2 linked regions of the Homo sapiens genome follow. The protein of the gene in region 1 purifies or fractionates together with the protein of each later gene. This does not show direct contact. Each region holds a gene or a part of one and is shown in the gene's direction. Other genes may lie near its edges. The genes, in order: PGGT1B and RIOX2.

Region 1 (3,820 bases):
TGTAAATATTTGGATGTACTACTTACTTTTTACAGATACATTACAATGTTTTCAGAGTATGCAATAGAAAGCATAGAAGGGCTTTGCTAAATTGAATTTATGTGTAAAGATCTGGTCCCAGAATCTTTAATCATTTTAACAAGATTCTTTAAAATTAAGCTTATTCTTCATTCTAGTGAATTTAGTGGCAAATTTGATACAAAGGGATTTTATATACATTTATGAAAGAAACTTCAAAAGAATAACCTTTTATTGTGGAGTAAATATATATTTCAACATCTAAAGTGCTTTATTATGGAGTAAACATATAGTTCCACATCTAAAGTGCTTGTACGTTGCCACTTACAGATAAGGAGTTTTTTTAAAAACACAATTTGAGGCTTCAAACAATTGAGTTCTGATCTCATTGGCTGTTACAAAAATCTTTTTGAGAAACAAATAAGTTTTATTTGTTACTTTACCCAGAGAGATTTTAGTTTTACACAGTTCTATTTTATGTTATTATAGATATATATTTTCTGTTGTACTTTTTCCTAGAAAAGTTTCCTAGTTTCTAGAAAACAAAGCTTAATGTTGCTTTGTACCCTTTGTAGTTTTAGAATAACTATATGGATGTAATATGACAGGTGAAATCAAGTTTATTTTTTATAGTCTGAAAGTCAAAGGAAAGTGAGCCAGAAGAAACCTAAGTATTTTCTGAAAAGGCCTAAAAGGTGATCAACATGGGCCTCCATTAGTTAAATAACATTTTCACAATGGCATTGAGTAAGCACAGCTATTTGTCATTTCTGTTTTGAAAAATAAGTGATACTGTTGTAAGTAAAGCTTTTTCTTTAACTCTTTTGACAAAGTTTGATGTGGTAAGATGTGTTGAACTTTTTGTTGTTGTTGTTTTGAGACAGGGTTTCATTATTTTGCCCAGGCTAGAGTGCAGTGATATAATCATGCCTCACTGCAGCCTCAACCTCCCTAGGCTCAGGTGAGCCTCCCACCTCAGCCTCCCGAGTAGCCGGAACTACAGGCGCACGCCACCATACCTGGTAATTTTTGTATTTTTTGTAGAGATGGAGCTTCACCGTATTGCCCAGGCTGGTATCGAACTCCTGTGGCTCAAGGAATATGCCCTTCTCGGCCTCCCAAAGTGCTGGGATTACAGGTGTGAGCCACCACACCCAGCCTGTTTTGAACTTTAATAGCTCTTAAGGCCATAAATGTCGGCCAATTCAAAAATAGAAAAAAATTTTGACTGGTACAAAACTGTCTTTTTAATGTTCCTATAACTGCAAAGCTCTGAGCTCTTCAGAAGTCTACATAAGACTCCTAGGCAGGAATGGCCATGTGATTTCATTGGCCACTTTAATAGAAGAGGATCGCTGCCCCCTGAAAGATGGGAAACTAGTGAGCCAGTGCAGAATTGTCATGGTATGAGCACTCATATTATTTCAACCAAATAGAATGTGAGTTTGTTTTTATTGTCAGATCAGATATTTTTACAATGACTGACATTACCCTAAATAGGAGGATTAAATATGGCACAGCATTCCAGAATGGATTATTTTTGCATAAGCTCCTTTTATTTAACACAATGTTAGGATAGTACTGCATATGGTTTAGGAACTTTCAGAGGTAAAACGTGGAGCGAGGGATATTGCAACTTAGATTCAGAGTTTTGTTTTCGTTTTAAAGAAAAAAAAACTTAATGATATAGCATTGAAGCTACTCGTTTTCATGTTCTCTAGTAAGCAAGAGGGGAAACTCCCCAAAGTGAGAAGTCTTACATATGACTGCTGCTACTCCTGTCTTTTAATCACAGAGGTTATGGACAGTATCAGCTCTTCAGCTGGAAACTGTTTTCCTTTGTTAATGATATTTTCATGAATAAAATATTTTATTTTGATCATCTGAGTTTTTTTTTTAATTGGTGTTTGAGGCTTTGAGAAAGCAAATATTTTTAAAACTATATTAGCATTTCTCTAAACTTACTTTTAATGGAGTGATGGGCTGGTAAATATGTGGCTAAAATATTCTGTAGAATGTACAAGTAAGAATGCCTATTATGATGTTTTAAATGCCTTCTTTTCAGATGCTTTGCATGCATACTTTGGGATCTGTGGCCTGTCACTAATGGAGGAAAGTGGAATTTGTAAAGTTCATCCTGCTCTGAATGTAAGCACACGGACTTCTGAACGCCTTCTAGATCTCCATCAAAGCTGGAAAACCAAGGACTCTAAACAATGCTCAGAGAATGTACATATCTCCACATGACTGATTTTAGATTGGGAGGGTGGGGGGATTTGTAGCATAACTGTAGCTCAAGTTTAAAAGCCATGTATAACCAAGTGTGCTCTTTTTTTAAAAGGTAGAGTCTTACAATCAAATCTCCTGCTGATTTCACTTTGGGATATGGTCTTGAGCCAGTAATCTTTATACTGGGTTTCAAGAAAATCTTTGTTGAAGTTTGAACCACAACTTTGTCGTGGTTCTTAAATGTTTATACTGTATTTCTAAGAAGTTGTTTGAGGCAAATTAACTGTATGTGTGTAGGTTATCTTTTTAAAAACTCTTCAGTGCAAATTGTATCTTATTATAAAATGGACACAAATTTTCAAGTTTACACTTCATATAGCATTGATAATCTTCAGGTGAACACTTAGTGATCATTTAAAAAGCTCACTGCTGATCGTAGAAAATTTGCTTTAATTAATTAAGTATCTGGGATTATTCTTTGAAAACAGATGACCATAATTTTTTTTAAAGAAGAGTGACTTATTTTGTCTTATTCTTAAGTAAAGTGTGCCAATTAAACCTGTGTGGCCTATATAAATGAAGTTAATAACTTCATAGTAAGAATAAATAGGTTTAACTAATGTGATAGTTTTCTAAAAGGAGATTGTTTGAAGACAACTATTATGTAACTGAGGGAAAAGCAACTTAACTGTATGTGATTGTGAATGAGAAAGTTTTGTGCTATGTGGGTCATTTATCTAGACATTGCTGTGGTGAATACCAGTTATGTTTGATTTTATTCTCAAATCATTAGTTGCCTTTTTTTTTTTTTTTTTTTTTTTGCTTTCTAGGAAGAAAACAATCTTTTTTATCTAGAAGGAAAGATACTTTGTGTTTTCATTTTTAGCCATTTGAAGTTTTTAATTTATTGCCCCCAGTGTGTTAGCTGCTCTAATTTCAAACTAATACTTTTCTAATTTTTTTCAAATTAAATAAGTAAAAAATACAAAAACAGAACCATTCAAACAGATTCAGTGGTGTAACTCAATACATGGTCATTTTTATTCTCATATTTTCAGGTAAGTGAAAGGGAAATGCGACCATTTAGAGGGTAAGAAATAGGGTTTTGTTTTTGTTCATTGTTTTGTTTTAAGTCTATGAACTAGCTAATTATAAAGGAGGTAGTATAAAAACTCTTCATTAGTAATTAATTTATCAATAACTCATATCCGTTACTTGCTCAGTGACATTCAGAACTATTGCGTCTAGTACTGAAATGGGGAAAGAAATCTCTTCACTAAAGGAGTTGGCTTTAAGTTAGTCTTGGTGATAATAAATGTTGAAATACAAGTATCAGTATAAAAACTGGATTACTGGTATCACTGTTTAGGCATTGTAATACTTTAAATGTTATCTTTTTTTCTAAATCAGAGGGAAAAAAATGTTGTGAAATAACAGTCCTTCCCAAGGGAAACACTGTGTACTTGGAGAAATGATTGATTTATTATTGGCATGCTTAGTTTTAAACCTGAGTTTGCCAACTGTATGTTTTTTAATTAGAAATAAAATAAATCTTCTGATGGTGGGGGAAAAA
Region 2 (3,820 bases), on another chromosome or scaffold:
GTTGCAGAGAGAAGATGAGCTGCCCTCAAGATTCCCTCTTTTCTCCATAGGTAGCTGCTACATGGAATATTTTGGCCTGAGTGGGATTGGGAAGGAGGCAGCTCAGGGCAGGAGTAATTTGGGGAGAATGTTTTGGTCCACCCACTTGGAATAGGGTAGAGGAGGCTCAGCTGCCCAAGAAAATGATGAATTTTTGATTACATCTTATTTTTCAGTTGAAATAGGGATTGTATAGTTTTTCAATTCATCCCAACATTCATTGAGCCTGTGTTGAGTGCTAGGTGCTTTGCTAGGGTAGGCTCTGGGAAAGACAAGATGGTAAGATACAGACCCTGCGCCTAGAAGTACTCAAAAATTATCAGGAAGTGGGGGACTGGCGGATAAAATCATATAATCCAATCACATGCCCATCATTGCCCTAAGAGCTTGGAAGCAGCATCTCTAATCCTCAAAATAATCCTGTAAGGTTTGGGGCTATTAAACTTCATTTTACAGATAAAGAAACTGAGGCTTTGGGCAGGTAAATTGCCAGATCATCAGCCAGTAAGTGGCTGTGTCTGTGTGACTCTAAATTCAAGCTCCTACTCTTAACCACTGAAGCATGCAAGAGGGAGGAAGCAGGCGTCCCAGGCACAGGATGTTACCTTCCTTGATCCCTGCATCAGGGCAGGGTAGTCTCAGGTGAGTCTAGTCTCAGCTTGAGAATGAAAAGATAGTGACTTCAGGCACCGAGAGCCTCTCGTGGATCATGGTTAACAGTGACAGGCTCACGGACACAGAGAAGCTAGACTAGCTGCACACGACATGAGCCCAGCATATAGACTGTGCCTTGAGGTTGTGGTTTCTAGAATGGAGAACTGAGACTCAAAGCCCATATTTATCTCCCTGAAATGAAGAGGACTGAGAAGGAATACTTATTAACTTCTCTACCCTTTCCTATTCCTTCCTTTAGCCGGGTGATTTGTTGTACTTTCCCAGAGGAACCATTCATCAAGCGGACACTCCTGCGGGGCTGGCCCACTCTACTCACGTGACCATCAGCACCTACCAGAACAAGTAAACACTGCCTCCCAGCTGCACATGCTAGGACAGCTCTGAGTCCTGGCCTGCAGCAGCCACATTCAGGAGGGATATGAGGGAGTTGGCCCCTACCTCCTATGCAAACCCCAGGGTTTATGTCCTTTACTGACTTCCACATTCCTTTGATGTCCCATGTATGTGACTGGTCCCTCTGGACTTGCTTCTGGGGACATCATGAACCTGACTCTGTAGGATGTGGGGCATTGCCCAAATAGAGAGTCACATAGTTTGGAAAGAAAGAGACTAGCTGTGGGTACATCAGTGTGTTAGTGATGCCAGGCTGGGCTCATACTCTCTCTCTTTTTTTTTAATATGATAAAATATATAGAACATAAAATATACCATTTTAAACCATTTTAAAGCATAGTTTGACATTAATTACATTCACACTCTTGTGCAGCCATCACCACTATTCGTTTCTAAAACATGTTTATTCCAACAGAAACTCTGTACCCATTGAAATCTCTTGGTCTCTTTGAGGGTTTCTCTTTTTACAGTCCATGAAGTTAAAGTAGGACAGGCAGTCTGGAACAGCAGGAACTAAAGTGCATGTGCTGACAGCAGTTCCAATTAAAATCATGTTCATTTCAGCTAGTACCTCCTCACTGGGTGGCAGTGCTGTGTGAGTTATATCCAAAAAGCAGCAACCTTGCTGGTCCAAATCATATTTAAAAATACTAATCATGGCCAGGCGTGGTGGCTCACTCCTGTAATCCCAGCACTTTGGGAGGCTGAGGCGGGTGGATCGCTTGAGGTCAGAAGTTTGAGACCAGCCTGGCCAACATGGTGAAACCCCATCTCTACTAAAAAAAATACAAATATTAGCCAGGTGTGGTGGTGTGCACCTGTAATCCCAGCTACTCTGGAGGTTGAGGCAGGAGAATCACTTGAACACAGGAGGTGGAGGTTGCAGTGATCCAAATCACGCCACTGCACTCCAGCCTGGGCGACAGAGCGAGACCCTGTCTCAGGAAAAAAAAAAAAATACTAGTCATGAGTTAATGTGTTAAACAAATATGTACTAGACATTGTGTTTGTTGCTGGGAATTCAAGGATTTTATCGAAGGGGTTTTGAGAGAGCTTATACTTTGGAATTGGTTGTAGGAGAAGAGATGGTGTGATAAATTCTATTGTAGGTTTGCAGAGGAGACTCTTGGAGCATAGAGGAATGCATTTAGCTAAGTAGGGGCATTAGAGAAGCCTTCAGAAATGACACCAATGCTGAGTGAGTCTTAAAGGATGAGTAAGTAGGGGTGGGTCAGCAGATCAGAGTAGGAGAGGACATTCTAGGTCCAAGGGACGGCAAGTCACCTCCTACCTTCAGGGCCAGAACTTGCAAAACAAGTTAGTAAGCATACCTCTGCTTCCTCATCAGACTTTTCAGTGTGAATTTCACCTCTACATTTAAAAGACTTACTGGAGGAATTAGCTGAGGCCTGGCCCTAGTTTAGTGCTATCTTTCCCACAAGTAGAAGGCCCAAGTTTGTATTAGGCTTCCATTTTGAAAAATGCCCTCATCACTTTGGCTAGGTAGGTTCCTTGCATTTTAAGGGACAGAAAGTCACCAAAGCCAGCTCAAGAAGTGCAGGGTCACTTGAGGGAGTGAGTCCTAGAAACTCCAGGCTACAGAGAGGCTGGAATTAGAAGTCCATTCTGGATTCAGAGCAGTTCTGGACCACATAGTTTGGCCCTTTGAATATCCGTGCATCTGTGGGTGTCCCATCGTTAATGTTTCTCAGGTACTCCCTTTCTGTAATTCTCTTTTCCATTTCTCTTGCTGCTACCAACTGGTTTTCTAGTGACTGGTGTTTTCTCCCTTCTGTTCCTTCTTCAGCTTCTGTTTACTCATAACATTAGGCCATCACCAGTTGCTACTCTGACCTCCATCTCATTGACCCTGTTAGCTTTTGCTTCTGCTAAGGACCTGACTCACTCTCTGTTTCCCAATCCCAAGAGTGAGGAACTGGCCGGCTGCCCCTGGGTCCTATTCATTTCTTCTCTTTTCAGCTGGGGCTGGGAAGAGCTTCCTAAGTTACAGAAGTTGCCTGCTTAGGATTGTGGGTGGGTACCATGATCAATGTGTCCAGGCTGGATTTTGACCTGTGTCTTGGACAGTGATGCTGGAGCTAGAATGAGAAGATGTGACTTGAGGGCCATTGCTCCCCAGAAATGATCCTGTGTTTTGAGCCTAATGCTCCTTCAGGTACCATGTAAAGGTGAATATTTGGGGCCTCTTCCTAACACCTGTCAAGGTAGCATTGTTGGAGTGTTTGGGGGTCTGCTGTATGTTGTTGATTTGGTTGTTTTACCAAAGTGGACCCTTCAAGAGATATTCCTAAATTGTGGGAAGTCCCAATATCTATTCTGACTCTTAGAGGAGCACTATTTAACTTCTACTAAATTCCTCCATGAGCTGTTGCTGTATGACTTCCACCTACATAAACCTGCAAAGGAAGCACATATTGTATGGTGCTGAGAGATCTGCATGTGCCCTCCGGGTTGAGACTCAATTAAAGATGCAGGGTTGGATATAACATTAAGTCACAAAGCAGTGAGGCCGCCAGGTAGTAGATGTCTTGGGAAAAGTGTCTCTCATGTGGCTTTTGTCCTCCTTTGCAACTTTTCTGGGAGGGAAGCATAACAGTGTTAATTTTGCTTACTGAGTGAGAAGTAAAAGTCATACTGTGAATTTCCATTTTCTACTAGCCGGCAATTTGAAATCTGCTGGTGACACAGGAAA

Evidence for each region.
Region 2: the proteins of PGGT1B (region 1) and RIOX2 purify together in Homo sapiens (affinity purification with mass spectrometry, with the first as the bait; one large-scale study listed by BioGRID). This does not show direct contact.

What each region holds. Positions count from the first base shown.
Region 1 is NC_000005.10:115,210,847-115,214,666, reverse strand, and holds part of PGGT1B (geranylgeranyl transferase type-1 subunit beta), read left to right. Parts: intron 1-2,083; coding exon 2,084-2,265; 3' UTR 2,266-2,359; coding exon of another isoform or gene 2,360-2,389; 3' UTR 2,390-3,820. UniProt on the Homo sapiens protein: Catalyzes the transfer of a geranyl-geranyl moiety from geranyl-geranyl pyrophosphate to a cysteine at the fourth position from the C-terminus of proteins having the C-terminal sequence Cys-aliphatic-aliphatic-X.
Region 2 is NC_000003.12:97,951,628-97,955,447, reverse strand, and holds part of RIOX2 (ribosomal oxygenase 2), read left to right. Parts: intron 1-952; coding exon 953-1,056; intron 1,057-3,195; coding exon of another isoform or gene 3,196-3,253; exon of another isoform or gene 3,254-3,296; intron 3,297-3,306; exon of another isoform or gene 3,307-3,820. UniProt on the Homo sapiens protein: Oxygenase that can act as both a histone lysine demethylase and a ribosomal histidine hydroxylase. Is involved in the demethylation of trimethylated 'Lys-9' on histone H3 (H3K9me3), leading to an increase in ribosomal RNA expression.